4 linked regions of the Homo sapiens genome follow. The protein of the gene in region 1 purifies or fractionates together with the protein of each later gene. This does not show direct contact. Each region holds a gene or a part of one and is shown on either strand. Other genes may lie near its edges. The genes, in order: EEF2KMT, CEP78, GALC and BCAT2.

Region 1 (7,857 bases):
GGGTGGGTGGGGGTGGAGGATATCTGCCTCCTGAGTTTGTATGGAAAATGTATTCTTCTGGTGCACTTCTTTCTGCGAGGGAGTCTATTGCTTGGTCTTTTCAGAAGGGCTCATGGCCCTTCGAACGTGAAGACCCAGGATGCAGGGTGATCTGCACTTGGCCCTCAAGGCCAAGGTCAGGCTGTGGCTGGGCCGGGTGGTGATCCTGCCTCTCACCTGCAGGCAGATGCACTTGAGTCCAAACCCCACCCTGGGCAAAGCAAGGGCCCATTTAGGTCTAGAGGAGACAGGAGTGGGCAGGACAGGCCTCATGAAAGCAAAAAAGAAAGTCTCTGAACATCAACCAAATGCTAGAAGCTGTTTTGCACCTGTCATCTCTGTTTTTGCTGTGGATGGTTTAAAAAACATTCCCTAGATTCCCCCCTCTCATTGCAGGTTTTTGTATATTCTGAAGTCTTTGTCTAAGTCTTAAATAGAAAACGAAAGCGCTGGAGCTGTCAGAGGTGCTGACACCCACCTGCAGTGCTGACTCAATGGTTTTGTTTTTTGAACAGGGGTGTTTTTAAAGGGTACAAGCACACCTGCAGTTCTTCTCTCAGGTCTTCTGGAGAGATTCAGGAGGCAGGGTCATGAGTCCCAGGGACTCTGGGATTCTTACCTTGTGCAAAATATCCCGCAGCAGCTCAGAATCTGATGAGTCTCTTAACTTTGCTTCTAAGCTCTGTGTGGAGGGGAAAGAGAGAAATCTCAAGGGCGCATTCACAGGAACATTAAACACGCAATAGAATGTGTTGGCAAAGCGCTGTGTGATCCCTCCCTGGGGACGTGGAGCCAGTTGGAAGTGGAAGCCACAGCGGCTGAAAGCCTGACATTCAGATGTCGCAGGGTGCACCTGGATGAGTCACAGGAAGAAGGCTGACTTTTGGCCACATTAGTCCTGGCTACTTAGCGGCCACCCGGGTCATGGGCCAGCTCCCTGGTTGCACTGCTCAGCCAGGAATTACCAGGGCAGCCATGGCACCAAGGTTTGATGGGCTTGCCATCTAAGTGGAGATGCAGAATGTGCCCATACCAGCCTGAGTTACATTATCCTCTTACAGGGGCCTCAAGCCCAGCAGCGAGCCTTGGCTCCCGAGTTAGGCAGACTGTCTCGGCTGGTATGTGACACAGGGCAAGGCACTTCATTGCTTCAGAGCTCCCTCCATGCCATAAAAGGCCCTACAAGACCTGGTCCTAATCCCTCTCTCTGGCCTGTTCTCCCTCACCCCTGGCCCACCCTGCTCACTCCACTCCAGCCACACTGGCTGCCTTGGTGTTGTTCCTCAACCACAGCTGGCTTGTTTCCACCACAGGGCCTTTGCATATCCTGTTCCCCAAGCCCTTCCCATGGCTGGCTGCTTCACCACTCAGGCCCCAGTTCAAATGCCACCTCTTTGGGGAAGGCTTCCCTGATTCCCTGACTTTGGTGACTCTTCTTCCCAGTTCCCGCATTCACTATTTCCCTGTTTTATTGGCTTTAAAGCCACTGTCATCTGGTCTTTTCTTGTTTATTTATTTGTTTATTCTCTGGCTCTCCCATGCAAGCAGAGCCTCATCTGTCATGGGTACTGCTGATCCATGGTGCCTGGCTCACAGAAGGCATTTATTAAACATTTTGAGACTGAATAAAAACACTAGCTAACACCAACATGTATTTACCATGAGCCAGGCACTGATCCACAGGCTTTTGTACTCAACCCTGACAACAACCCTAAGAGGTAGGTATCATTATATCCCCCATTTTATTAATAAGAAAACAGCACAGAGAGATGCAGTCACTTGCCCAAGGTCACACAGGGCCAGGGGCTGGGCCAGGATTCGAAGCAGACAGGCTGTCTCCTGGGTCTGAACTCTCAACTACTGCACCCTAATCAAACAATCCCTCTGGTCAAATGTGAGTGGTAATAATAGTACCCACCTCGTGGGTGTTGAGGGTGAGCCCAAGTTAGCATTCAGCGTGGGCATGTGAACAATTACAGTCAATACTGAATGGAGACCTATGATGCTTTTATGAAGGTTTCTATTTTGGGTTAAAAATGCACGAATTTCTCTTGACCAGAAATGATCTCTGAGTGCAAATATTTTATGTCAATGGAATAACGCAAATGATTAAGCAACACCCCATAAAATGGGGCAGACCCAGGGAGGAATATATATCCAAACTCACTCATCCCAGTGAGCTCACCGCACATGAATTACAAATGAGGCCGGGTGCATTAAGCCCCTCTGCTGGCAGAAGGGAGGCTGCTGCCTGCCATGGGCCTGTGCTGAGAATGGCAGGTCCCCAGGGCGAGGAGAGGCCACCCCCTTCTCTGTCTCTTCCATCACAGGCGTGACAGCCTCAGAGCATGAGCCGATTCTGTGCAGTGCTCAACATACAGATGAGAATACTGAGGCACGAGGGACAGCCTGTGACCCGGTCACCGCGCTCAGGAGGACGTGGTTACCTGCGGTCCTGACGGCGCTGACTTTTTAGAATGGGCGAGGGCAGCTGTGTCCCAGTGACCAGAACGATTACTGCCTTTAAAAAGTCGTGAAAATGATCGTGAACTGTACCCCACACCGAGCGCGCGTCTGCCCCCCAAGGCTGTGGAGACGCCCCCAGCTTCCCCCGCCAGCTCGCGGGGCAGGAGGGGTGCGAGCGACTCTGGCCAGGCCCCAGGGACGGGGACCGGGTCGCGCGGCCCTGACCGGCGGGAGCCCAGGAACTCACGTGGCGGGAGCGCCAGGGGCTTCAGCACGGAGACCCGTCCCGTCTGCCCCTGGACTCCCGCGAGCCCCGCGGGCCTCTCCGCTCGCCCCGCCGCCCACCTGCCAGGGGAAGGAGCGCAGTGTGCGTGCCGCCAGGAAGCGGCGCTCGAAACTCTGCAGCAAGAGTTCGGTCCCCGCGTTCTCCTCGGGCGCCATGACGTGGGCGGGGCCGCAGCGTTGCCGGCAGACCGGGCGGAAGCCCGGCCTGGACTGAAGAGGGGGCGGGCCCAGGGCAGTGAGCGGGGGCAGAGAGGGGGCGGGGCCCGGGGGTCCCCCGGGGGTCAGGAGGAACGTCGTGGGGGCGGACTCTAGGGCGGGGCCAGGATGATTGTTATGAGGGCGGGGCCTGGGGTGGGGCCAGGATAAGCGTCGTTGGGGCAGGTCCTGGGTAGGGGGCAGGTCCTGGGTAGAGTCCAGGTTGGCGGGTCCTGGGGCGGGGCCAGGATAGGGCGATCCTGGAAGCTGGGCTTCAGAAGCGTCCAGGTTGGTGGCGTCCTGGAGGCGGGGCCTTGCGTGGGGGCAGGATAAGAGTCCTGGAGGCGGGCATTAGGGCAGGGATAAACGCCATTGGGTTCAGGAGGCGAGACTCGGAGCAGAGCCCAGGAGACAGGTCTTAGGGCGGCGCTAAGGCCAGACCCAGAGAAGAGCTCAGGAGGCGGGGCCGGGGCGGGGCGTTGACTATGTCGTAGCACATGGCCAGGCGGTGCTCGGACTCTGGGAGGCGGAGCTTAGGACGGGCCGACGTGGGGAGGGGCCCAGGGTCCGGGAGGCGGGGCCGAGTCCGGGCTGCGGGCTGCGCTCAGGAGGCGGGCCCTGGGAGGCGGAGCTTAGGGAGGGGCCGGTGTCGGGAGGGACCCAGGGACTGGGAGGCCGGTCGGGGCTGGGCTCAGGGGCCGAGACCTAGCTGGGCTTGGGGCGGGGCCGAGACGGAGCGAGGGGTCCAGGGCGTGGGAAACGGGGAGGGGTTTGAGGAGGGGATCGGAATGTGGCTCAAGTTCGGGAGGCGTTACCTGTGGAGGGTTTGAGGCAGGCCCAGCAGCGAGGCCACGGTCTGCCGACGCGGGGCCAGGGGCGGGCCCCAGGATCCGGAGCTTAGGGCGGGGCCGAGTCCGGGTTTGGGGACCGGGAGGCGGGGCCGGTTAGGGCGAGGGTCCCTGGGATCGTCGGGTCAGGCCTTGGGCCAACGTAGGCACTCTCGCAGTTCCTCCGCCTTCAGGAAGGTCTTTTTGGCAGGGGCCCTACGGGTGCGCGCTTCGGTCCTGGAGGCCTTATCCAAGCCTCCTCTCCATCAGCGCCACCCGTCTGGGGTCCGAAAGGAGGGAGCTTTCCCTCTGTCCCCCAGCCTTTGGACTGTCACCAAACAAGCCATTCGTTCACCAAATACTTATTAAGCGCCTACCAGGTACCTGACAAGGGAGATGTAACGGTGAGAAAAACTAGGTGTGGTCCAGGCCCTCCAGGGGCTCAGGGGCTCGTGGAAGAAGTGGACATTGAAGTATTTATCACACAAATGAGTATAAAAGTACAATAGCGATATCTGCCACGAAGGCGAGCAGACAGAGCTAGCGGGGCTTGCAGGAGGAGTTTTGATCTTGCAGGGACAGGAAGGAGGAGTTAGCTCCTGCGGGGTGGGATTGGGGGTGGTGGTGATATAGACGTGGGGACAGAGTGGAAAACAACAAAAATATAATTAATTTAGTTCAAAGTTATTGTGTCTTGAGTTGAAAGGCAGGGCAGTTAGCAACACAGTTCAGATTTCAGTACTGCCCCTGAAATCTGAACTGTGTTCAAAGTCTAAAACGTTTACCTTAGCAAATCCCTCATAAAACTCCATTTGGAAGAGTCCCGAGAGCTAATTTGTAAAGTATACTTGCAGAAGGTAGATGAGGAGACAGATTAAATCTTATTACCTCTTTCAGATGAGAGGCTCTTGAGCCCTGCTCAGCTATGAGAATAAGAGGGGAATTAATTCTAATAGAATACACTTGTTCTCGCATAGCTGTTGTTCCCCACCAGAACCAAATGAGCTCAAGATCTGACAAAGAAAAAAAAAAAGGTTCATCTTTTATTCCCCCAAACACTTTCATTTAAATCAAGAGGGTGGGATGTGGTTATTGCTGTGTTTTTAGACAGAATCAACAGTTTCTGGGTCTGAGATATTGCATACACCCTCTCAGTCCCTGTATCCTGAGATAGAGTCACCTGATAATCCACAGCAAGTCCTAACCAGGGATGGGTCTGGGTGCTTAAGGAAGGTTGGCTTCAGAACTGGGCCAGGGGCACTGCTTTGCTTTTGCTGTTTTGATCAGCTCTCTGCCTGCAGGAGACAAGGAAAACCAATGGTAACAAGTTAGTTACACTCATAAATCCTGGGCTTATTTTATTAACTCACATAATAGCTATTAATTGCCTTTCCTCCAAGGAGCAAAAGGGCATATACGGTCAATGCTGTAATAAGTAACACTGTATTATGTTATACTAAAATATTAATAAATCTAGGTTGGTTCAGTCTTTCCTGATTCCATAGATTGCAAGCAGATTGAGGAAGGACCCTAGCAGACCACAGAGCTGAGCCATGAGCACAGAAGAAATCTTTTTTTCTTTTTTTTTTTTTTGAGACGGAGTTTCGTTCTCTTGTTGCCCAGGCTGGAGTGCAATGGCGCAATCTCGGCTCACTGCAACCTCTACCTCCCGGGTTCAACCGATTCTCCTGCTTCAGCCTCCCGAGTAGCTGGGATTACAGGCGTGAGCCACCATGCCGGGCCATTTTTGTATTTTTAGTGGAGACAGGGTTTTAACACGTTGGCCAGGCTGGTCTCAAATTCCTGACCGCAGGTGATCCGCCCGCCTCTGTCTCCCAAAGTGCTGGGATTACAGGCGTGAACCACCGCGCCTGGCCAGAAGAAATCTTTATCTTGGTGTGCGGGTTCAGATGAGGGACAAATGTCATCTCTCTTGGATCTGAATCTGGAAGGATCAAGGCACTGAAGGGATTTTTTTTGTTTCAGAGAGTCTAGAGTCTCCCTCTGTCGCCAGGCTGGAGTGCAGCGGCACGATCTCGGCTTCTGCAAATTCTGCCTCCCGGGCTCAAGCGATTCTCCTGCCTTAGCCTCCGGAGTAGCTGGGACTACAGGCACGCGTCCCCATGCCCGGCTAATTTTTGTATTTTTAGTAGAGACGGGGTTTCACCATGTTGGTCAGGATGGTCTCAATCTCTTGACCTCATGATCCATCTGCCTTGGCCTCCCAAAGGGCTGGGATTACAGGCGTGAGCCACCATGCCCGGCCTCACTGAAGGGATTTTTTTAATGTCACGTGGCTGTCACAGGTGCGGTGTGTTCGGGTGCAAGTGAAGATTAGGACTGATGCTTAAAAACAAACGTGAAATTCCAGGCGGTGTTGCTACGGGGAGCAGCATCAGGACAAGCTGGTTTCAGTTGCAAGAGTTTGCGTGTACGTGCAAGAACTACAGTCGAGATTCAACTTCCGGCTTTGAGGGTCTCTTTAATAACAGTAATAACAACCTAAGGCAGTTTAACAGTATGGAATGGTTGCCTTTTAGAAGTTAAGCTATGGGCATGGAAGTTCAATCAGTCCATTGAAGTTTTTCCTTTATCTCTCCTATGGTTAATGGTTTCTGCAGAAAAGGACCAATTGATTTCTTTCTAAAACGTTGCTTCAGGGTGTAGAGACCTTTATAGGTCATGTTTCAACTTACAGAAAATTTTATAGTTCAAATATAAATTACGTTCAATGTGGACTTTGCAATAGAATTGAAGGTTAAGTAAAGTTTCCACTTTCCTTAGGCTGTTTGCAGTGCCCAGCAGGCCCCATGATATCGAGGTGGAAGTTATGTTAAAGGAGGAGGTTGGTCAGGGATGGGTAGAATAAGGAATATGCGCAGCTCAGGCTAATGATGCAATGACTGAGGTGTAGAAAGAGGGCCAGGCACGGGATAACGCCTGTAATCTCAGTGCTTTGGGAGGCCAAGGCAAGAGGATCACTTGAGGTCAGGAGACCAGCCTGGTCAACAGAGTGAGCAGAGTGAGACCTAACCTGTACAAAAAAACCACAAAAAACCAAAAAAATTAGTTGGGCATGATGGTGTGCGCCTGTAGTCTCAGCCACTTGGAAGGCTGAGGTCAAGGGATCCCTTGAGCCCAGGAGTTTGAGGCTGTAGTGAGCTATAATCACATAACTGTACTCCAGCCTGGGTGACAGGGTGAGGCCCTGACTCAAAAAAAATTGAGTCAGGGAAAAAATTGGAAATCTTAATCCTCCGTACCCAGGAATGTGACCTTATTTGGAAATAGGGTCTTTCTAGATGTAATCAAGTAATGATGAATCGTACTGGATTGGGGGCTGCTGGTGAGGAGGCAGATGCAATGACCGGCGTCCTGATAAAAGAAGAGAATGAGGGCCGGGCATGGTGGCTCATGCCTGTAATCTCAGCACACTTTGGGAGGGTGAGGTGGGTGGATCACTTGAGGTCAGGAGTTCGAGACCAGCCTGGCCAACATGGTGAAACTCCATCTCTACTAAAAACACAAAATTAGCACTGCGTGGTGGCGGGCGCCCGTAATCCCAGCTACTCAGGAGGCTGAGGCGGGAGAATCACCGGAACCTAGGAGGCGGAGGTTACAGTGAGCCAAGATTGTGCCAGTGCACTTCAGCCTGGGTGACAGAGGGAAACTCCATCTCAAAAAAATAAAAGAGGAGAATGTCAGGTGAAGACAGAGACACAGGGAGAAGGCAGCCATGTGATGAGGGAGGAGAGATGGGAGCGATGCATCTACAAGGAACACCAAGCATTACCAGCGGCCACCAGAAGCCAGAAGAGGCAAGGAAGTATTCTCTCTTACATATTTCAGAGGAAGCGAAGCCCGGCCGACACCTTGATTTTGGGCTTCTGGCATCCAGGCCTGCGAGACAATACATTTCTGTTGTTTTCAGTCACATGCGGGGCCCTTGTTGTGTTGTGGTTTTTTTTTTTTTTGGAGATGGAGTTTCACTCTTGTGCCCCAAGCCGGAGTACAATGGCGCGACCTTGGCTCTCTGCAACCTCCT
Region 2 (7,877 bases), on another chromosome or scaffold:
TAGTAGGCTAGCCTTGACTCTGAGGTCCCTCCCATCTTTAATTTATTTTGGTTCCTGGTTTTTTTATTTTTTGTAGGGGGAGGGTCATGGACAGGGTCTTGCTCTGTCACCCAGGCTGGAGTACAGTGGCAAAATCATGGCTCACTGCAGCCTCAACCTCCCGGGCTCAAGAGATCCACCAAGCCCAGCTAATATTTTTTACTTTTTGTAGAGACAGGAGTCTCACTATGTTGCCCAGGCCAGTCACAAACTCCTGGCCTCCCAAAGTGTTAGGATTACCAGTGTGAGCCACCGCACCTGGCCTGGTTCCTGATATTATTTTGGTTAACTAAAGTCCATTCAGAGGTACAGAACAGTTCCTGCACCTGAATGAGATGTAGAGAATAATCTGACTTATTTTCAGAAGCAGATGTGTTGAACTGTCCTTGCAGAAGAGATGGTGCTAACCCCAGAGCCTAGAAAAGGGCCGGGCACACGACAAGTGGTCAGGTTGTTTTTAAATACATCAATAATCATTTCCTCTCCCAGATCGCACACCCTCCCTCTTTCTCTCAGCTTATAAACATGTTCACGTCCATATCCACTTAAAAAACACCTTTCAGACCTACAATTATCTGGATCTTCTTTGTGGGTAATCTAGGTCCCTCCCATGCCTTCAAATACCTGTCCTCCCACAAAGCCTAAATCTTGGGCCCAGATCTGCCTAGCAGACACATTTGGATGCCCCACAGGCCCCTCTTAAAACATTAAAGACAAACTGAGATCCTCCTCCCACCCCCAATCTCATTCGAGTTAACTCGGCTGTGTCATGGAAAGACGCTGCTGTGTTTCACTTACAGACGCTGCTGTAAACTGTCACCCATACTTGCTGCCCCCCTCTTCTAACTAGTCACCACGCCCATCCATTCTCTTAGATATCTGAAATCCTACCCTTCTTTTTTTTTTTTTTTGAGACAGAGTTTTGCTCTTGTTGCCCAGGCTGGAGTGCAACGGTGCAATCTCAGCTCACTGCGACCTCCACCTTCTGGGTTCAAGCAACTCTCGTGCCTCAGCCTCCCAAGTAGCTGGGATTACAGGTGCCCGCCACCACGCCCGGCTAATTTTTTTTTTTTTTTTTTTTGTATTTTTAGTACAGATGGGGTTTCACCATGTTGGTGAGCCTGGTCTCGAACTCCTGACCTCAGGTGATCCACACCCCCCCGCCTTGGCCTCCCAAAGTGCTGGGATTACAGGCATAAGCCACGGTGCCCGGCCCCAGCCCTTCTTTTCTATACCTTAGTTTGGGCCATTAGATTACAATTCACCATCCTTCCAATTTTAATTTGTCTTCCATATGGAGGCTAGACTGAGCTCCTACGGAAATTCCATCTCATCATCCTACAGCGGTTTCCCAAAACCTTCAGGATAAACATCCAACTCTATGACAGGACAAACGAGGACCCTCCCTGTTTGGCCCCCACAAGGTTTCCAGCCTCAACTCTCTCTGCTCTTTCTCAAACCTAAATTCCAGTCCTGTAACTCAGCTTGCATACTCTCTCCTATTTCCAAAACTTTTGCACAAACTGTTCCTTCCTGTTACCTAGCTAGCGTCTATAGGAAGCTGCCTCCATTATGTAGAAAATGCTAAGTGCTCAAAGGAATAACAGCATTTTGTCATATATCATAGTTGACCTAACATATTTTCCGAATAATCAGAGAGTCTGGATCCCTAATTATACCACTATACATTTACAAATGGCTTGTATTTGTAAAGCACTTTACAAACTTCTTATATACACCTTAAAAAATGAAGACAGGCCGGGCGCGGTGGCTCATGCCTGTAATCCCAGCACTTTGGAAGGCCGAAGCGGGCGGATCACCTGAGGTCAGGAGTTCGAGACCAGCCTGGCTAACATGGTGAAACCCCATCTCTACTAAAAATACAAAAATTAGCCGGGCATGGTGGCGCGCGCCTGTAATCCCAGCTACTCGGGAGGTTGAGGCAGGAGAATCACTTGAACCCGGGAGGCGGAGGTTGCAGTGAGCCGAGATCTTGCCACTGCATTCCAGCCTGGGCGACAGAGTGAAACAGTGTCTCAAAAAAAAAAAAAAAAAAAAAAAAAAAAAGACAAAGGCTGACATGTATTAATTTCCTACCTGCTTAGTTCTCTATCAGGCAAATCAAAGTCATTCAATAAAATAGGTAACATCTGTCAAATGTTTAATGATGTCCCAAACTGTGCTAAGAGCTCTGCAGGCATCAGCAGCGCAGGGAATCCTTGCGAAGGCGCACATAACCTGGGTCTCGTTATTAAGCCCATGTTACGGATGAGCACACTGAAGCCCTAGAGACCTTAAGCCACTCACCTAGCTCGTGAGTGTCCAGGCCGCACACCCCTTCTATTGCACACATACCCCGACAATGGACACCACTCACCTAAAAACCCACTTCGCCGCACCGACTGAGGGGCCCTGGAGGCGGGAACTACAAACCTGTGTCCCCCAGCCAGGGCTGGAAGAAGCTCTTGATGGAGACCAAGGGCAGGTCTTTATTGATCTTGAGGGTGCTCAGCAGAGGCGCCCAGTCCACCCCGCGGAGGCGGTCGGCGTTGAAATCCAGCACGCCCTCCCGGAGACAGGCGCGCACGGCGGGCAGCGGCACCGAGTTCTGCAGCGCGCACAGGTACTCGTAGTGGGAGAAGAAGTCCGCCGCGCTGTCGCGGCGCAGCTTCACGGAGTCGATCATGGCCCGAGGGCGGCCTCGGGGGATGCCCGCCGCGGAGACGCCGCCCGCGCCCACCCAAGAACGCTGAGTCGCAACCCGGCCGCTCCGGCACCCACGGCCAGGCGATAGCGGCAGCCCCGCACCGGGCTCAGGAGCGGTGATTCGGTCGGAAGACGCAAGGCCAGAGCCCCAAGCTAGGCCGGCCCCTCAACGCCCCACTCCCGCGCTGCCTCCCGCCCTGCGGCCCAAGCAGTTGGCGCCCGCCTCATAGTCCTCTGAGGCGCCGGGATTCAAGCCGGTGGGCGGTGCCGTGGAACGGTGCGCCAAGACGTCAACGTGCTCGCTGTGCGTCGGCACGCAGGTCCCGCCTCCTGAGGACGGGTGAGTTCGCTGCTACCTGAGATAGTGGTCGGGAGAGTTTGAGGGTTTGCGAAAGAGTTTACTGATCGATCCGAATAAAAGTGAAATGTGTGGTCGGGCGCGGTGGCCCACGCCTGTAATCCCAGCACTGTGTGAGGCGGGGGCGAGCGGATCACCTGGGGTCAGGAGTTCGAGACCAGCCTGGCCAACATGGCGAAACCCCGTCTCAATTAAAAATACAAACATTAGCCGGGCATGGTGGCGGGCGCCTGTAATCCCAGCTACTCGCCTGTAATCCCAGCTGAGGAAGGAAAATCGCTAGAACCCGGGAGGCGGAGGCTGCAGTGAGCCGAGATCTTGCCATTGCACTCCAGCCTGGGCGACAAGAGCGAAACTCCGTCTCAAAAAAAGAAAGAAAATAAAAAGTGAAATGTGGATGTAACAACGCACTTTTAAAAAAAGTCTAAACATCTGAGGAATGTGTCTGTGCTTGCAGTGTCCAGCCAGCACAGAGACTGCACTCAAGGGATGTGGGAACGGCTGATTGAACGTGAACTGCGGTCATTAAATCTTTTATGTCTGTGTTAATATCTACAAATAAGCCTTAATTTCTGTAGTTTCTGCATATCTCACACGGTTCCTGGCAAATTGAAGAGTGTTTCATGAATTCAGGACTTTATTGTGTTTGCTGTGAATCAGTTTGTTTTGTACTGACGATGATGTTGGCTAACTCCCTTGTAACTAGTACTTATTTGAAATAATGTCCTCGGGATTATTTTAAGCAATGTTTAAGTATGAAATCATTTCATTCTCCTAACATCTCAAGGAATATACTATTATATTCTACTTTACAAAAGGGGAAACTGAGGAACGGGGAAGTTAAGTGGAAGCTAAGTGGAAGAATCCAGATAATTGACCTCTCCTTCTATTGGTATGCAATTGCTAGAGCAATGATAGTCCTCCGGTAGAGCCTTAGACATTGTGTTTATTGCATTCCTGTTCCACCCACTGCATTCCGGATACTCCAACTTACTTCCAACACACATATGCAGGCGTCTCTAAAATTCCGGAGATATGGTCACCAATTATTTTTATGTGCGACATGCTCAAATCTTAATATAGTAAACGCTTGTATATTCATAAACCAGCTTAATAAATGAAACATTACCATTCCTGTTGAAGAGCTTTGTGTAACCACCTTCCCAATCACGACTACTCTCTGACTCTGAGATAACTGCTCTTCTGAACTTGGTATTCATCGTTGCAATGTATGTCTTTATATTTCTGCTACATATGTAAGTAAGCAGTATATAACATTCTATATTTTCTTTTCCTACTTTACTTATCGTTACCTTTACTAGGTCCATCCGTGTTGACATATAGAGATATTCATTTATTTTCCCTGTTGTTATATGGGAGTTCCATGTAGAAACATACAGTAATGTGTCTGTTTTTCTGTTGATGGTAATTTAAATTGTTTCCAACTTTACGATTTCTTTGTTGCTCTATCCATTTTCTTTCTAGTCTCCAGCATCAATTAATGTAGTGTCCATTACCTTTTTAAAGCTCCCTCCTCCCTGTTTCCCATGAAGCCACCTGATTTCTTTTTCTTTACCTCTCGAATTTCTTCTTCTCAGTCTCATTCTTTGGCTTCTCTTGCATATCCACTCTAAATATTGCTGTTCGTCAGGTTTCTACCCTCAGCTTTCACCCCTTCTGACATTTTACAGTTTCTCTGGGTGTTCTTGTCTTCTGCTCAGCCTTAACTTCCCCACTCTAGGCAGATTACTTCTAACACAGATAGATCTCTTCATCCATTAAATTGCCCCCTAGAAAGCCAAGATTTCTCACTGCCCTCAGTGTCAGATCTATGTCACGTAGCTTGACATACAAGCTCCTTCATAATTTGACTATCTCTGTTGTCTCTCTCCTTGCTACATTCTTCCTGGCATGTCTTCTCTAGATACACAGAACTGCTTGAACTTTCTGATGTCCTATTGTTGCTGTCTGGGTCTTTTCATAGGCTGCTCCTTTATTTAGTCGGCTAACTTCCATTCTTTTCCCAGCCTTGGTTTGGGGCACCTTCCCTAGAAAGCCTGTTTCTCTCTAACCCTCATCTCTCCTCCCTTGCTTGTTTAGCACCTCACTGCTGTGCTCCCTGACATCCCTGTAGCATAACACTTAGAACATCCAATGATAAACATCTTTTTAGATGGTTTTCCTTCCAGAGTCTGAAAGCCCTTTGAAGGCAAGAACCATGTCTCATTCATGCTTACATTCCCTATGCCTAGCACAGTGTTAGCACAGAGAAAGTGCTAACTAATGACTAATTGTAGGAACATTCTTCCCTATTATCCCCGCAAGCTATTGCCAGCACCCTGTAGCCACTGCCTATGAATGCAGCTCAGAGAAGTCTTCCTCATATTAATAATCATTTAACATATTCATTTAAAATTTATGTTTCCTGTGCTTACTTATTTTTAGTGTGGCAAGATTTCTTTCAAGGCTTGCCTGATAATCTCTTCTCTGCTTCAGTTAAATTATGACTTAATAGTTGCTTCAAAAAAAGAATGGCTCCAGTTCTCCTTTCAGCATCTGGTGGGTTCACCCACACACTTCCCTGAACACTGAATGAAAACTGTCTCTCTGTGGCACCTCTGGGATCCTCTGACAAACCAGGCTCACACCTGGCCCAAGACAAAATGCCTTGGCTTCATTGCAGGTGCATGACTTGGGAGGGACGTTCTACTGGGTGGTATAAGAGATGAGCTCTCCTCCTTCAGGGGATCTGGTGAGTGAGTGTTTGAGTAGAATACAGGTAAATGGTATCATTTAAGCACTTGTTCACTGTACTCTACTCCCAGTCAATCCAGACTGTTATACCCCGACTTCCTAGCCCACTTACCTTTCCATAGAACCACAATGCCATATCATCTGCTTATCTCTAACATTCATCCTCTCTGTACTTGCTTCCAGAGCAGTGAGGTTTGATGGATCCAGGCACAGAGCAATGTCAACCTGGCCAACAACATAAGCTGTCTTATGTTAACGGATGTGTGGTCCCCATTTCTTTTTCCCATTACCTTCCTTGTGGCTACTCACAGTGGTTGTTCCAATTCCTTCTCCTTCTTTCTTTTCATGTTGCTGCTTGATATGGTTTGGCTGTGTCCCCACACTTTACCTAGAATTGTAATAATCCCCACATGTCAAGGGCAGAGCCAGGTGGAAATAATTGAATCATGGGGGTGGTTCCCCCCATACTGTTCTTGTGAAAGTGAATAAGTCTCACGAGACCTGATGGTTTTATAAATCGGAGTTCCCCTGCTCAAGCTCTCTTGCCTGCCGCATGTAAGACGTGCCTTTGCTTCTCCTTTGCCGTCTGCCATGATTGTGAGGCCTCCCCAGCCATGTGGAACTGTGAGTCCATTAAACCTCTTTCCTTTATAAATTATCTAGTCTCAAGTATGTCTTTATTAGCAGCATGAGAACAGACTAATACACCATAACACTTCATTCTACATCCCTGAACAGGACACCTCTTACTTCATCAGGGAAAACAGTTCCAAATGTAAACTTTCTTGTCTTCTTTCTTCTGACTTCAGCTGCCTTCCAATCCATGCTCCACACTGCAGCCGCCACCACCTCCTCTGCAAATCCTTCTATGACTTCCCTTTGCTCTCGGGATAAAGACAAACTTCACAATGGTCTCAAATAGTGCTCCACTCAATGTGGAGTCCACAGACTAGCTATTGATTTTAGAACTGTTACTGTTCTTATAAGATGAGGAGCTCAATTCAGAATGTAAATCACACATGCACTAAACATACTGCTTAGATTTTTTTCATGAAAAGAGCAGTGTATTGCGTTACATTCTAGAACAAGCTCCTTATCTCATTGTCCAGTGGCACTTTGAGTAGCACTAGTCTCCAGGGTGCTGCATCCTCAGGGCATGATGGAGTATGATCTCTGCAGCTTTGTCTTGTGTCCTAGTCTCTTTCATTCTCAGCAGTCCAGCCTATAGTAGTCTCCTTTCAGGCCTGCACACTTAGAATAAACCACTGTCCATGCTGTCCGCTCTGCATGAGATGTCCTTCCCTTCATTCTGCACCTAATTAGTGCCTCCGCATCTTCTCATCTCAGCTCATGTGTCACTTTGTTGAGGAAGCATTTCCTCCCTCCCTGACTCATCACATCCCCTATCATAAGCTCTCATAATACCACGTAACTCTTGTTGATAGCCTTCATTCTATTTCGCATTCATTTTGAAATAAATGTTTACCATATGGTCCTTGAGGAAGGGATCGTGTCTGTTTTGCTTATTCTGTTGTTTTTGTTTTGTTTTTATTTTTTCCGAGACGGAGTCTTGCTCTGTCACCCAGGCTGGAGTGCAGTGGGGTGATCTCGGCTCACTGCAACCTCTGCCTCCCGGGTTCAAGCAATTCTCCTGTCTCAGCCTCCCGAGTAGCTGGGATTACAGGTGCAAGCCACCACGCTCGGCTGATTTTTGTATTTTTAGTAGAGATGGGGTTTTGCCATGTTGGCCAGGCTGGTCTCGAACTCCTGGCCTCGTGATCTGCCCACCTCAGCCTTGCAAAGTGCTGTGATTACAGGTGTGAGCCACCATGCCTGGCCTGAGCCACCACACCCTGCCACTTATTCTTGCATCCCCAGTAGCTAGCCCAATTCCTGACAATATTTGTTAAATGAATAAATGGATGTATCCAACCAATGACCAAGACTTCACAGTTTATCCTTTGTAGCATCTCTCATACTCTTCTTCCCTTCCTTCTATTTGCATTGCCATTATTCAGTT
Region 3 (7,020 bases), on another chromosome or scaffold:
GTCCTTAAGGAACTAAGAGGTGAGTCAGAAAAATAAAGGAGTGCCGGGGTTCAAAGTGTTGTAATAAAGATATGGACCTGGTGCCAAAGGAGAGGCGCTTACATCAAATCAGTGAGCAGGGCCAGAAGGCATCCTTCCTTCAAATTCCAGAGGTGGAATTTGAGCTGAAAGGTGAATTGGAGTTGTCCAAGAGAGGATGTGGGGTGCATTCCAGGCATAAGAATAGAAAACGTTGTTTGATACATCTAGGTAGAAGGTGTGAGAGTGATAAGGGATAAAGTATCAGGGTTAGGAGCCAAATAATTAAGGGATTTGGGTGCAAAATTGAGCGATTTGAACTTTATCCTGAAAGCTTTTGGGAAAGGGACGGTCTTAGCATGTTTACATGGAAGAGTTTCGTGATTACATTTGTATTTTGGGAAGGTTACTCTCGTAAGTAGCATGGAAGATAGAATACAGGGAGAGGCAGAAGGGATGTCCTGAGACCACTTATACTGTTCTCATAAGTGAGGAGGGCCTGGGTAAGTCAGTGGGGTTGAAGAGTAGAGGAGGGATTTGAGAGCTATTGAGGATATCTTGGTGACTGAGGGTACATGGGAAGTTTGGACAAAAGGTGGCCCAAGTTTATGGTTTCGGCAAGTGTTGGTTACTGAGACAGCAAGTTCAGGAAAAGGAGCAGATACATGCAAAAGTGCTATGTTTGGTTTGGGATATATTGAGGTAGATGGAAAGAGTGGCTAGAGAGCAGCTCCATGGGTGTTTGCCTCACTGGTAGGGACTGGGGATGTTTTGGGTGTGACAGAGTAGATATGGGCACTTACCAGAATGTCAGTGGTAGCATATATGAGAATATAAAATAGAAAGTTGAACCCCATAAAAGTATTTTGTCCCAACCATCATACATACACCTGGCAAAGTGTCAGCAGTTTGAACCTAGGACTGTCTGGTTTACAAGCCTGAGGCTACTGTTTCATGCCAAAAACCGGCCTCTTTTTATTTATTTTTTGCTTATATTGCCTCCCAAAGGATAGATTATGGGTCAGTTACTGGTTTTGTGATTTCTTTTTTCAAATAGTTGTATGCCGTGGTCCAGGCATGATCCAGTATTGGTCCCTGCGCTGTCTACCCTTGTCTTTCCATGCATTCTGATGCCACTCTTGTGTTAAGTTTTCTTAGTACAGCCTGGTCTGGAGATTATTGCTAGTTATTCTTAATAGTAACAGGTAGAATTTATGAGGATGGGGAAAGTAGTGCTTCCTTTCAGCATTGCTGCTTGTGATGTTTTTCCGGAAGATGTTAAGGGGAAAAATTACCTGACATTCATCCCTCCCATTTTAGTCCTGAGATATTGTTGTCAAGTGGTCTCAAGATAGAAAACCTGAGTTTCAAGATAAGTTTGTGATCATGAGGTTAGCAAGCTTACCTCCCAGTTAGCCCTCATGCCAGAAGAAGAGAACTTTTTTAGCTGTCGGACAGACAGCAGCCCTACTTGCCCAATGATTGGCACAGAAAGGGCAGACAGACAACTTGTGAGGAACTTTTCCTCAGCCTGACCTTGCCTGAGGCTAAATATGTGTATACCAGGTGGTGTGCGTGAACACTGTAGACAGATATTCATGACTGGATTTCTTTTATTCATACTTTTGAAAACTTTTTTTTTTAGGCAACCTCCCGACTTCTAGTAAATTACCCAGAGCCCTATCGTTCTCAGATATTGGATTATCTCTTTAAGGTAATGAAAACATAATTATTTCATGGTACCTGTGATATTTTAGAAATTGGATGGTGAATTTCACCATAGAATTTATTAGCCTCACAATTCTAGTTTTTGAAAAAATGGCACATTACTTTTGGAATAAATTGCTATTTGAAGTTTTGCTTTTGTTTTTGCGTCTGTAAAACCTAAGGCAGTAATTAGTAATTGTCTTGAAGCTTCATACAATACAACACTATGTTAATACTGTTACTTCTTTTCACAGCCGAATTTTGGTGCCTCTTTGCATATTTTAAAAGTGGAAATAGGTGGTGATGGGCAGACAACAGGTAGGAGAATTTGGGAGATAGGATTTCTCCCATCAACATTTTAATCTATACCTCAGCATATGGACTGTGATTTCAGAATATGTGTAAACAATACCAACACTTTTGAGATTGATTGTTGCTTATTAGAGTTTTCCTCATTTTTTAACTGTAATTATTTAAAAATATTATATAGAATATGACTGGTCCATCAAAAACAATATTCAAACTTCAAATTGCTTATTTAGTTGAAGTAATCGGTAGTAAACAAATCCACAGTTTTCTAAAACCTATATATACAGGACAGAGCATAGGGACAGTTTTGAATTTTATTGAGCAGTTAGAAAGATTTTAATTTCGTATAGAACAAAAAAAGTGTTATTAACTTAAAATATGTGGTAAAAATGATACAGCTTTTTTTTCTTTTAAAAACAAAACTTATCTTTAATCACTAAATCTTCAGTCTTCATTGTCACTATTTTGATTGGCTTTATGTAGTCCATGTTATCAACTGGCAGTTTATAGGCCTTTTGTTTCCAGGAAGAAGAAAAGAAATTCTCTCTATGATTAGATATAGCTTATTATTTACAGAACAGATTCCATTATAATGAACTCTAGAGTATTACTTGTATTCCTGCTAGTGATTTGGAAGTAACTCTTTGTTGAACAGATATGTCTATGTGGTGGTATTAGTGTTTATGTTGAAGAAAAAGTGCAAAGCAAAAACAAAAGAAACCCCCATAACAGAAACTTTCTTCAAGCTATTGCGTTTTACTGTTAAAACCTTTTAGGCAGAATTGACAATGATGGACTAATTTCACTTGCTGAAGCTAAATTAGAGGTAGAGGTACATAAACAGGCAGTTCTTGTGAATTCTGATGTTTACCTTTAAGAAGAAATGGGCAAGGGCCTCTCGGAAGGCCCTACTTAGCAAGGGCAGATGTTGGTGAACTGTGGGAATATACGAGGACTTTGATAGCAATTACCTACCTCAGTGCTAAGACAATGTAACCTCTACTAACTGCAGATGTTAGTATAGAATTTTGTTATTTTTAGAGTGGATATGTATACTCATTCCTTTTTTTTTCCTCAAAACTCTTCCTATATCAAGACATATTATAGGCTAAAGGTGTGGGTTCTGAGAACAGGGCTCACGAGTCCAGGGATTCATATCCAGCGTTGAAAAGCTGAAAGTTGAGGTAATCAGAACTTAAAGTTGGACATGGGGATTTGAAAACTACAGAGAGATCAAAAGCCCAGAAGCATGAATACTGGGAATTTTTAGTTATATGAGGTGATAACATTTCTCTCAGTACTGCTTGTAATAGAAGGTTGTGGTTTTATTAAGACTTTTACAATGCTTAAGATAATAAAAAAAGGATGAAATGATATGCTTTTATCATCCATCCTTTAGTTGTGTAAGATTATGATTTCCCCAACTTCAGGATTAGAACTGGAATACTGCTTTTGTGAAGTGTGTGTCTGGGGTGGGGGTGGGGAGTGAGATGGTCCTAGGAAGTACCATTCATGGATCATTACTTCCGTTTTTGCTCTCCTCTATTCAGACGGCACTGAGCCCTCCCACATGCATTATGCACTAGATGAGAATTATTTCCGAGGATACGAGTGGTGGTTGATGAAAGAAGCTAAGAAGAGGAATCCCAATATTACACTCATTGGTAAGAAATGAAGTTTGCAATGTTTCTTCAGTCTCTTTTCCTTTAACTTTTAAATTCTGAATCGTGTTGGTGGAATCTCTATTAATACGGAAGTACTCATAATGTCATTAATGCTACCAGTATGCTACCAGCAGCAAAGCATGTGCCAGGGGTGATCCTTTCTTTGCCCTTGTATATTATGTTGAATCCTTATAATACCTGTGGAGTAAGGCATGACTCTTTCCATTTTCCAGGAAGAAGCAGTAGAAGCTTAGGAAGATTATGCCACTGACCTAAGGTCATAGACAGTTAGTAAATGGCAAAATCGGTGTTAGCACCTAATTCCATGTTTCCTATGATGCTAAACTACTTTCCTTCACAAGATCTGTCATCAGTATTTATAAAAGGGTAACACTGTTCACAAAAATGTATATTACATGCAGTAGTACACCTAACTAGTTACAAAATTGTATATTGCATGTAGTAGTGAACCCTATTTTTAGAAAAGGTACATACAAAAGTGTTTTTTGTTTATTAGTTAGTTTTTGAACTTCAATAATGTGCTGGTTACTGTTCTGGGACTCAGGAAGCCAATCCCGTCCCCAATTCCTGCACCTGTGGGGCTTAGGTTCTATTGGGAGGATCATTGGCTAGTTGCTTAAATGGGACTATGTACATTTCACAGTTCTGTGAGAATGTGTACAGAGCTTGTGAAGTATTTCAAACATCAAGAGTGATGGGATACTTTCATCATTTGAAATGAATTTGATTTTTTGAAACAGGCTTAAATTCAAACTAAGTTAAATGAAATTAATGATTCATTTTAAAGACCTGATTTCTAGTTATTTAAAAAATAATTTTCTCAACAATCAGGTTAATGAAAAGTAATATTTTCTAAGTTAAAAGAAATTAGGAGTAAGTATGTTCTTTATAAATGGGCTTTTGTAAGAGATTCCAGAAATGCTGTGAGCAGTAAAAGCATCACTGAATTCAGCACATATCCACTAGACTGCTTCCAAGGTCAGACCTCATTTAAATGTAGAAAATATGGCATGCTAAACCATGTCCTAACAAAGACTTGGTAGGCCTTCAGATTGCATTTAGCATTTCATTGTTTTCAAGAATTCTATTACTTTAATGTCACATTTCTTATGTAATACACTTGGGTGTTCCTCCTGAGTTTAGAAAATAAGCATTTTGTCATTTTGATTTTTATTTTTTTCAGTGGTGAACTAGTTTGGTAATATATTTATTGCTGAGGAACTTAACTATTGAGCCTATTTTAATATATTAGTAGCAAGTTAAATTTAGAATTATAATAAGTACTTTTCTACTCTTCTTATTTTTTTACTTAAACATAATCAGGATTATTGGAAGAATATGGACTTATTTGATGTGTATCACTTAACAAGGGTATATTTCTCTATGGAGTCATTGTCATTTATAGTGATATAAGAACAAACTAGTTTTGCTAAATTAGATTGCCTGACTGATTAATATTTTAAGGACCCTAAATTGTAAGAAGATGTACAATTGAATGATAAATTTGTGTTATACATAACTCAAGAGTAGTTTGGCATAAGCCTTTTAGAATTCTTTGATTTGACCTCAAAGAACAGAAGTTGAATATTGAACATTCCAACAGTGAGTGGACATGTTAAGTTAAAACATATGGTACATTTCTTTCTATTGGTAAGGGTCTTGGAGAGAGGTGTTTGTATTTGTTATTTTTCTTCTTCTTGGAAAGAACATTTGAAATTATGGGACCTGACTCTAGGGATCAATAAGGAATTATAGTGTCTATAGATTGGAAAGGATTTCAATAATTTTTATATGGTATATAAACTTTCCTTTAGTCAGATCTGTATTGGTTTTTTGCTAGTTGAATGCTTTTCTTAAAAAAAATTTGTTTTATTTTCAATAGCGCCAGCACCGTTATACCTCCTCTACCTTTGCCTCCTCCCTTCTCTCTGCAGGGTTGCCATGGTCATTCCCTGGATGGCTGGGAAAAGGTTTCGACTGGCCTTATGTCAATCTTCAGCTGACTGCCTATTATGTCGTGACCTGGATTGTGGGCGCCAAGCGTTACCATGATTTGGACATTGATTATATTGGAGTTAGTAATATATTTAAAATATGATTCAGTTTTGGACATTTGTTTGTAATTTAGAAAATAATTTGATTCTGTGGTACTTTTTGACTAACCATTTTATGCCATGAGGCTAATTTGTTCTAATGGTGTCTGATAATAACACAAACTAAGTACCTGTGACCTTTAATTGCTCCCCTTTGCCCATCCCAGTGTTCCCACTTTTGAAAACTGTGTTGAGTGTATACCTCCTTCCTCTGAGCTGGGTTTTTTTTTTTTTTTTTTGTATCAACCCAACTCAAATTCTCCTTCAAAGCTTTCCCTGCTTTCTCTGGTTCCTACAACAGTGTTGTGTTTCCTATACAGCTTATGGGGGGTTAGTCTCATTTTATCCTCTTGTTGTCTTAAGCCAAAGATTGGCAAACTTTTTATTAAAGGGCCAGAGCATAAATAGTTTTGGGTTTGTGGGCCAAAAGGCAATATTGAGGATCTTGAGGTAAATATATAGCCATTTAAAATGTAACTATTTAAAACTAAAAACACTTTTAGCTCTCAAGTTGTAAAATTACAGATGATGGGCCAGATTTGGCAGGCTGGCTGAAATCTGCGTTCACCTGTCACAAACTGTTAGTTAACACCTTTTAAGGATTTGAAAAGTATGAAAAATGATATCATGTCCAGCTTGTCTCTTGGCTGGGTGGAGGCATGCCCCAGGCTGCATCGTACCCCACAGGGCCTTAACACACACATAGTGGGTCTCCATAATCATTTGCTTATTAATATACCATCAGTTAAAACTAATACTTAAACATTTTCATGCAATCATGACTTAGATTATCAGCAAACAATTATTGAGTTCCTACTGTGTTGCAGGAACTGTGACTGTAATATTTGAGGGCTACTAAGATTAATAAGCTCTTGTGTTCAGTAAGAGAAGTAGATGCTGGAACATATAAACTGTAATACTACATGATGATACAGGGCATGAGGATGAGCCAAGGGCTGGAGGAAGTCAGAAGAAAGAATATACTAGTTTTTGCTATCCTTTTCCAAATTATGACTGAAAAATTAGTTTATATTTGAGAACTTTCCTTTTTTTTTTACACTGTCACCCGGATTGGAGTGCAGTGTTGTGATCTTGGCTCACTGCAACCTCTGCCTCCTGGGTTCAAGTGATTCTCCTGCCTCAAGTAGCTGGGATTACAGGCACCCGCCACCACACCCAGCTAGTTTTTTTTTCTTTTTATTAGAGAC
Region 4 (7,020 bases), on another chromosome or scaffold:
GCTCACAGGGCAGGCCAGGCCAGGCCACTCTGTCTCTCTCAACCTCACGCCCCAACGCCTCCCCACAGGGCTGGGGAAAGAGGCCTTGTGAGGTCAAAGGTCACCAGAGAGGGCCCAGCCTGCTGGACACAGCCAGACCTGCTCTTCCTACTCCCCTCTGGGAGGACCCGCCTGAGCCTCATGCAGTGAGGACTGCAGTGGCTCCCCAGGCCCCTGTAGCTGCCCCTCAGCCCCAGGGGCTGAAGGGAATTGGAGTCACTGCCAAAATGGGTTTGTATTTCAGGTAATCAGAGCCCAGTTGATCGAATACCTTCAGAGAATAAGCACCTGTACTCCTGGGTCTGGCGGAGGAGGGGCTGGGGAACTGGACTCCTGGGTCTGAGGGAGGAGGGGTGGGGCCTGTACTCCTGGATGTAAGGGAGGAGGGTCTGAGGCCTGGACTCCAGGGTCTGAGGGAGGAGGGGCTGGGGGCCCAGACTTCGGGTCTGAGGGAGGAGGCAGCTAGAGTCTGGACTCTTACTTAGGTCTGAGGGAGGCGGGCCTGGGGTCTGCACCCCTGAGCTCTGGGGGAGCAGGACCTGTCGGTCCTTGGTCTTCTAAGGCCTGTCAGCACTTGGGTACCCGGAGGCCTTCACTTACCTGTGTGCCTTCCCTGGTTGTTTTCTTGTCTGAGCTGATCTCCAGGCTGCGACCAAAGGTCTCTGGGGTGGGAGGCGCTTGCGTTTGACTTTGCCGCAGCATGGAGGAGGGGGCGGGAGCTGACTCAGCTCTTTCCAGCGAGCCCTCGTCAGGGCAGGGAGGGGACTTGGCCTCCTTCAGGACCACCTGCCCCGTCTAGAATGGACTGAAACTGGGACAGAACAGGCAGGCCAGTGGGACCTCCAAGTGCAGGAGGTGGCGAGCGAGCTGCCAGGGCCCCTGCTGTGCCCCACTCACCCCCTCTCTCACTTCTTTCTCCACCCAGATCTGGGCACGAAAGCTTCTCTCTGTCCCTTGGCTTCTGTGTGGTCCCAGAAGATATGCCTCCTCCAGTTTCAAGGTGAAAGGAGGGAACTCGATGCTTGGCTCTGAGAGAGGAGGGGGCTGGCAGCTGGTTTTGGGCATCTCCAAAAGGTCCACAGCCCAGAGATGGCAGTGAGTGGTGGTAGCTTAACAGCCTGCCATTGGGCCGCAGACAAGGGATGAAACTGCATGTCCCAGAATCCTCCAGGGTGACAGGTCCTTCTTCTCTATGGGTCTGAGGCCCAGGGCTTCATGGGAGTTGTAGTTTTTCAGCTGGGAGGTTGTGGCCAGATTCTAGGATACCCCTGTCTTTCCTCAGGCTGCAGACCTGCAGCTGGAAATGACACAGAAGCCTCATAAGAAGCCTGGCCCCGGCGAGCCCCTGGTGTTTGGGAAGACATTTACCGACCACATGCTGATGGTGGAATGGAATGACAAGGGCTGGGGCCAGCCCCGAATCCAGCCCTTCCAGAACCTCACGCTGCACCCAGCCTCCTCCAGCCTCCACTACTCCCTGCAGGTGGCATGGCGGCCGGCCTCTCTCCCTGTCCCTGTCTGCATCTCCTCCTCCTTGCTGTGTCTCTTGCCAGGTGTACCTCTCTTGGTTTGTTTGTTGTGTGTTTCTCCTTTCTGTGCATTCACCATTTGTTTTCTGAGGCCTTCCATGCTCCAGGCTCATGCTTGGTGATGCTGGGTTCCCCGAGATGAGCAGACCCGGTTCCTTCACTTGGAAAACCCCATGCTGTGGGCATAACTCAGTATGATCTGTGCTCTGATGGAGGCCCTGTGGAGGCCAGTAGAGACCCCCAGCCTCACTTGAAAGAAAGCATGGCTTCTTCTGGCATAGAGGGAAGCTTAGAGGGGGATGGTGGGAGAGGTGACAGGGTGATGGTAGGAAAGGGGACAGCCGGGGGGCTGGCGGGAGAGGGACAGCCAGGATGATCGCGGGAGAGGGGACAGCCATTGGGGGGGGAGATGGTGGGGGAGGGCACAGCCAGGGGGATGGCTGGAGAGGGGACAGCCAGGGGAGGGATGGCGGGAGAGGGGACAGTCAGGGGAGGGATGGCGGGAGAGGGGACAGCCAGGGGAGGGATGGCGGGAGAGGGGACAGCCAGGGGAGGGATGGCGGGAGAGGGGACAGCCAGGGGAGGGATGGCGGGAGAGGGGACAGCCAGGGGAGGCATGGTGGGAGAGGGGACAGCCAGGGGAGGGATGGCGGGAGACGGACAGCCGGGGGAGGGATGGCGGGAGACGGACAGCCGGGGGAGGGATGGCAGGAGAGGGACAGCCGGGGGAGGGATGGCGGGAGAGGGACAGCCGGGGAAGTGATGGTGGGAGAGGGCCAGCCGGGGGAGGGATGGCAGGAGAGGAGACAGCCCAGGGGGGATGGCGGGAGAGGGGACAGTTGGAGATGGCGGGAAGGGGGACAGTCGGTGGGGGATGGCAGGAGTGGAGACAGCCAATCCAAACCCCAAACGGGAGTAGAGCCTGGTACATTTGGGAGAAATTGCGGTGTTGGAGCATGGTTAAGGAGGCTGAAAATGTCAGGGCCATGGAGGAGCTGAGGGGCTGGGGCCTTGTCCAAGGGTGCTGGGAGCCACTGAGGGCTCTGAGGAAGGGAGGGGCAGGGCCATGTCTGGGTATAGTAAGAGCCCTCTCAGGCCATGTGGAGGGCAAGAGTTGCAGGCTAGGAAGCCGGGCTGGTGACCAGGTAGACCTTGGGCCTGTCCCCACATGGGGACCCAGGAGGAGGAGCGGCTTTGTGGCACCTGGTGAGCCTGAGATACTGTGAAGTTTCTAGGAGACAGATCCAGGAGGCATTTGGTTTTAGGACTTATAGCTGCGGCTGAAAGCAAGGTCTTCAGAAGGAAACTTTGGTTGAGACAAGATTTAAGTGAGCATCTTACAGCTCCAGTAACTGGTTAGCAGGTTGGCTGATTTTAGTCCTCCAGGGCACAGTTCTGTGGCATGAAGACTTTTATTCCATTCCTTTCTTTCCTTTCCCTCCCTCCCTCTGTTTTTTCCTTTCTTCCTTCCTTTCCAGAATTTTAAGGTTTTGTTTTTTCCCCTCTCCCCTCCCACTCTGGACATCTAAGCAACACCAGTCGATTCTGTACAGAGCACACACACCTCCAATCACAGCCAGACACTCCTGCCAGTACATAAGCGTGATGGGCAGGATTCCGCCTGCTGAGCCCCCAGGAAGCTGGTTACTTGGAGACCACCACACACTTCTCCCTTCAGCCCAGCACAGCAGTTGTCCTCTGGCTGGGGACCCAGTACTTTTTCTTCAGCTGAGTGAGAGCAGAGGAAGCCTGTGGCCCTGGCAGACAGAACGCACTGCTGTGATCCCGCGGGTCCAGGGGGCGGAAGGGGGAGGATGAGGGAGTAGGACAATGCTGTCCCTATGTCACCCACACTCCAGGGCATGTGTGGATTGCAGGCCGACCACGTGTATTATTTTTTATTTTATTTTTTCTTATTTATTTATTTAGAGACAGAGTCTCACTCTGTCCCCCAGGTTGGAGTGCAATGATACAATCTCGCTCACTGCAACCTCCGCCTCCCGGGTTCAAGTGATTCTCCTGCCTCAGCCTCCCCAGTAGCTGGGATTACAGGCGCCCGCCACCACACCCGGCTAATTTTTGTATTTTTAGTAAAGCCAGGGTTTCACCATGTTGGCCAGGCTGTTTTCGAACTCCTGGCCTCAAGTGATCTGCCCACCTCAGCCTCCCAAAGTGCTGGGATTGCAGGCGTGAGCCACCATGCCTGGCCTTATTTTTTATTATTGTGGTACTAATACGCATACATAATAACACACAGCATCAAATGTGGGATTCCAACCATTTTATTTGTTTGTTTGTTTGTTTATTTATTTATGAGATAGAGTTTCACTCTTGTTGCCCAGGCTGGAGTGCAGTGGCACAATCTTGGCTCACTGCAACCTCTGCCTCCCAGGTTCAAGTGATTCTCCTGCCTCAGCCTCCTGAGTAGCTGGGATTATAGACATGCACCACTATTGGCTAATTTTTGTATATTTAGTAGAGACACGGTTTCACCACGTTGGCCAGGCTGGTCTCAAACTCCCGACCTCAGATGATCCACCGCCTCATCCTCCCAAAGGGCTGGGATTACTGGCGTGAGCCACGGCGCCCAGCCTCCAACCATTTTAAAGCCCATAATTCAGTGGCAGGCAATGTTATGCAACCATCAGCACCATCAAGGTTCAGAACTGTTTAATCCCCCATACCTATTAATCAGTACCCATTGTCCCTCACCCCAGCCCATGACAACCATTAGTCTGCTTTCTGTCTTTGTCTACCTGTATTTGTTTATTTATTATCTTTAAATAATAGGGATGGGGTTTCACCATGTTACCCAGGCTGGTTTTGAACTCCTGAGCTCAAGTGATCCACCTGCTTCGGCCTCCCAAAGTGCTGGGATTACAGGCGTGAGTCACCAAGCCTGGCCACCTGCATTTTTGTTGTTGTTGTTATGACTCTTTTTTTGAGAAAGGGTCTTGCTCTGTAGCCCAGGCTGGAGTGCAGTGGCACGATCTTGGCTCACTGCAGCCTTGACCTCCCAGGCTCCAGCGATCCACCTGCGTCAGCCTTCCAAGTAGCTGGGACTGCAGGTGTGCACCACCATGCCCAGCTAATTTTTATTTTATTTTATTTTTTTTTAGGGATGGGGTCTTGTTATGTTGCCCAGGGTGATCTCAGATTTCTAAGCTCAAGTGATCCTCCTGCCTCAGCCTCCCAAAGTCCTGGGATTGCAGGCATGAGCCACTATATCCGGTGTATCCGGGCTCTTTTACCTGGGTTTTGTTTTGTTTTGTTTTTGAGACGGTGTCTTGCTCTGTTTCCCAGGCTGGAGTGCAGTGGCATGGTCTCAGCTCACTGCAACCTCCGCCTCCTAGGCTCAAGTGATCCTCCTGCCTCTGCCTCCCGAGTGGCTAGGACTACAGGCACACACCACCTTGCCCAGTTAATTTTTAAATCTTGTGCAAAGACAGGATCTCACTTTGTTGCCCAGGCTGGTCTCGAACTCCTGGCTTCAAGCAATTCTCCCACCTTAGCCTCCCAGTTCTGGGGTTACAGGTATGAGCCATCATACTGGGCCTGGAAATTCTTCTCTATACCTTAAAGCTTAAAGAGCTTTTTCCATCTTTCTTGCAGCCTCATGCTGTATCATCCTAACAATGCACCTCCTTAGGCAATCCCCTACTGTTGGACACTTAGGTTGTTTCCAGTCTATTATAAACAATTTTGCAATAAAGAATCTAGTACAGGGCCGGCTGTGATGGCTCACCTGCAATCCCAGCACTTTGGGAGGCTGAGGCAGGTGGGTCACCTGAGGTCAGGAGTTCAAGACCAGCTTTGCCAACATGGTGAAACCCCATCTCTACTAAATATACAAAAATTAGCTGGGTGTGGTGGCGGGTGCCTGTAATCCCAGGTACTCGGGAGGCTGAGGCAGGAGAATTGCTTGAACCCGGGAGGCGGAGGTTGCAGTGAGCCGAGATTGCGCCACTGCACTCCAGCCTGGGTGGCAGAGTGAGACTCCATCTCAAAAAAAAAAAAAAAAAAAAAAAAGGAATCCAGTACACACGTCCCTTCTTTAGTCACTTGTTTAAGTGCAAATGTATCTAGAGGCTCAATTTCGGGAACTGTAGGTCAAAGGATATGTATGCTTGTAATCTTGATACGTATCGCCACATCTACATCTACAGGGTGTGTCAGTTTCCACACCCACCAGCAGAGCCTGTTTCCATACCTTGGACAACCCTTGTCCAAGTTTTAGATCTTTTCCAATCTCCCATGTGGTTTTAAAGGTATCTCAAACTAATTTTAATTTGCATTTTTCTCCCTAGTGATTAATGAAATTGACTATCTTCTCACGAGCTTAAGGGCCACCTGTATTTCCTTTTGTGTGAACTGTCCATTTGCTAGGCTGATTTTTCTATCAGGTTAGGTTTTAAAAAATTCATCTGGGGCTGGGAAGAAGAGGCAGGGGGATTGCTTGAGCTCAGGAGTTCAAGACCAGCCTGGGCAACATAGTAAGACCCTATCTGTACAAGAAATTGGAAAAAAAAAAAAAGTCCAGTCGTGGTGGCTCACGCCTGTAATCCCAGCACTTTGGGAGGCCGAGGTGGGCGCATCACCTGAGGTCAGGAGTTCAAGACCAGCCTGGCCAACGTGGTGAAACCCCGTCTCTACCAAAAACACAAAAATTAGCCGGGCGTGGTTGTAGGCACCTGTAATCCCAGCTACTTGGGAGGTTGAGGCAAAAGAATTGCTTGAACCTGGGAGGTAGAGGTTGCAGTGAGCCAAGATAGAGCACTTCAGCCTGGGCAACAGAGTGAGACTCCATCTCAAATAAAATAAAAAATAAAATTCCCAATCCAAGATATAAAACAGTTATTTTTGTTTCCTTCTATAGCTTTTATGGTGTAATATATATATATATATTTTGTTTAGACTTTTAATGCACCTGGAATTTTTTCTGGTGTGAGGTGTGAAATAGAGATTCAACGTAGTTTTTCTCTAGATGGATATTTGGTTATCTATTCCATTATTCAGTCTGTCCACTCATATAGCAGTGTCACTCTGTTTTAAGTATTGTAGATTTATAATGTTTTACTACCTGATATGGCTACTCCCTGCCCCTGCCCCATCTTGCCCCTCATTTTTGTGGTGGTGGTTTTTATCCCCCCAAAATATTGTAGCTAGTTTTGCTTGTCTTCCATTCATTTATCTATTCATTCATCAAAAACCCACTATGGGAAAAAAAAAAAAAGTCTGGCTGGGTGCAGTGGCTCACCCCTGTAATCCTAGCACTTTGGGAGGCTGAGGCGGGTGGATCAACTAAAAATACAAAAATTAGCTGGGCGTGGTGGTGGGCGCCTGTAATCCCAGCTACCCAGGAGGCCGAGGCACAAGAATCACTTGGACCTGGGAGGCGGAGGTTGCAATCAGCAGAGATCACGCCACTGCACTCCAGCCTGGGTGACAGAGT

Evidence for each region.
Region 2: the proteins of EEF2KMT (region 1) and CEP78 purify together in Homo sapiens (co-immunoprecipitation; 2 studies listed by BioGRID and IntAct, with this or other methods). This does not show direct contact.
Region 3: the proteins of EEF2KMT (region 1) and GALC purify together in Homo sapiens (affinity purification with mass spectrometry; 3 studies listed by BioGRID and IntAct, with this or other methods). This does not show direct contact.
Region 4: the proteins of EEF2KMT (region 1) and BCAT2 purify together in Homo sapiens (affinity purification with mass spectrometry; 3 studies listed by BioGRID and IntAct, with this or other methods). This does not show direct contact.

The regions. Positions count from the first base shown.
Region 1 is NC_000016.10:5,094,794-5,102,650, forward strand, and holds the start of EEF2KMT (protein-lysine N-methyltransferase EEF2KMT), read right to left. Parts: upstream 3,003-7,857; 5' UTR 2,947-3,002; coding exon 2,851-2,946; intron 2,561-2,850; exon of another isoform or gene 2,487-2,560; intron 722-2,486; coding exon 659-721; intron 1-658. UniProt on the Homo sapiens protein: Catalyzes the trimethylation of eukaryotic elongation factor 2 (EEF2) on 'Lys-525'.
Region 2 is NC_000009.12:78,231,199-78,239,075, reverse strand, and holds the start of CEP78 (centrosomal protein of 78 kDa), read right to left. Parts: upstream 3,002-7,877; 5' UTR 2,726-3,001; coding exon 2,473-2,725; intron 1-2,472. UniProt on the Homo sapiens protein: Centriole wall protein that localizes to mature centrioles and regulates centriole and cilia biogenesis. Involved in centrosome duplication: required for efficient PLK4 centrosomal localization and PLK4-induced overduplication of centrioles.
Region 3 is NC_000014.9:87,983,167-87,990,186, reverse strand, and holds part of GALC (galactocerebrosidase isoform a precursor), read left to right. Parts: intron 1-1,663; coding exon 1,664-1,732; intron 1,733-1,979; coding exon 1,980-2,043; intron 2,044-3,114; exon of another isoform or gene 3,115-3,218; intron 3,219-3,584; coding exon 3,585-3,698; intron 3,699-5,653; coding exon 5,654-5,793; intron 5,794-7,020. UniProt on the Homo sapiens protein: Hydrolyzes the galactose ester bonds of glycolipids such as galactosylceramide and galactosylsphingosine.
Region 4 is NC_000019.10:48,801,019-48,808,038, reverse strand, and holds part of BCAT2 (branched-chain-amino-acid aminotransferase, mitochondrial isoform a precursor), read left to right. Parts: exon of another isoform or gene 1-670; intron 671-964; coding exon 965-1,039; intron 1,040-1,321; coding exon 1,322-1,522; intron 1,523-7,020. UniProt on the Homo sapiens protein: Catalyzes the first reaction in the catabolism of the essential branched chain amino acids leucine, isoleucine, and valine. May also function as a transporter of branched chain alpha-keto acids.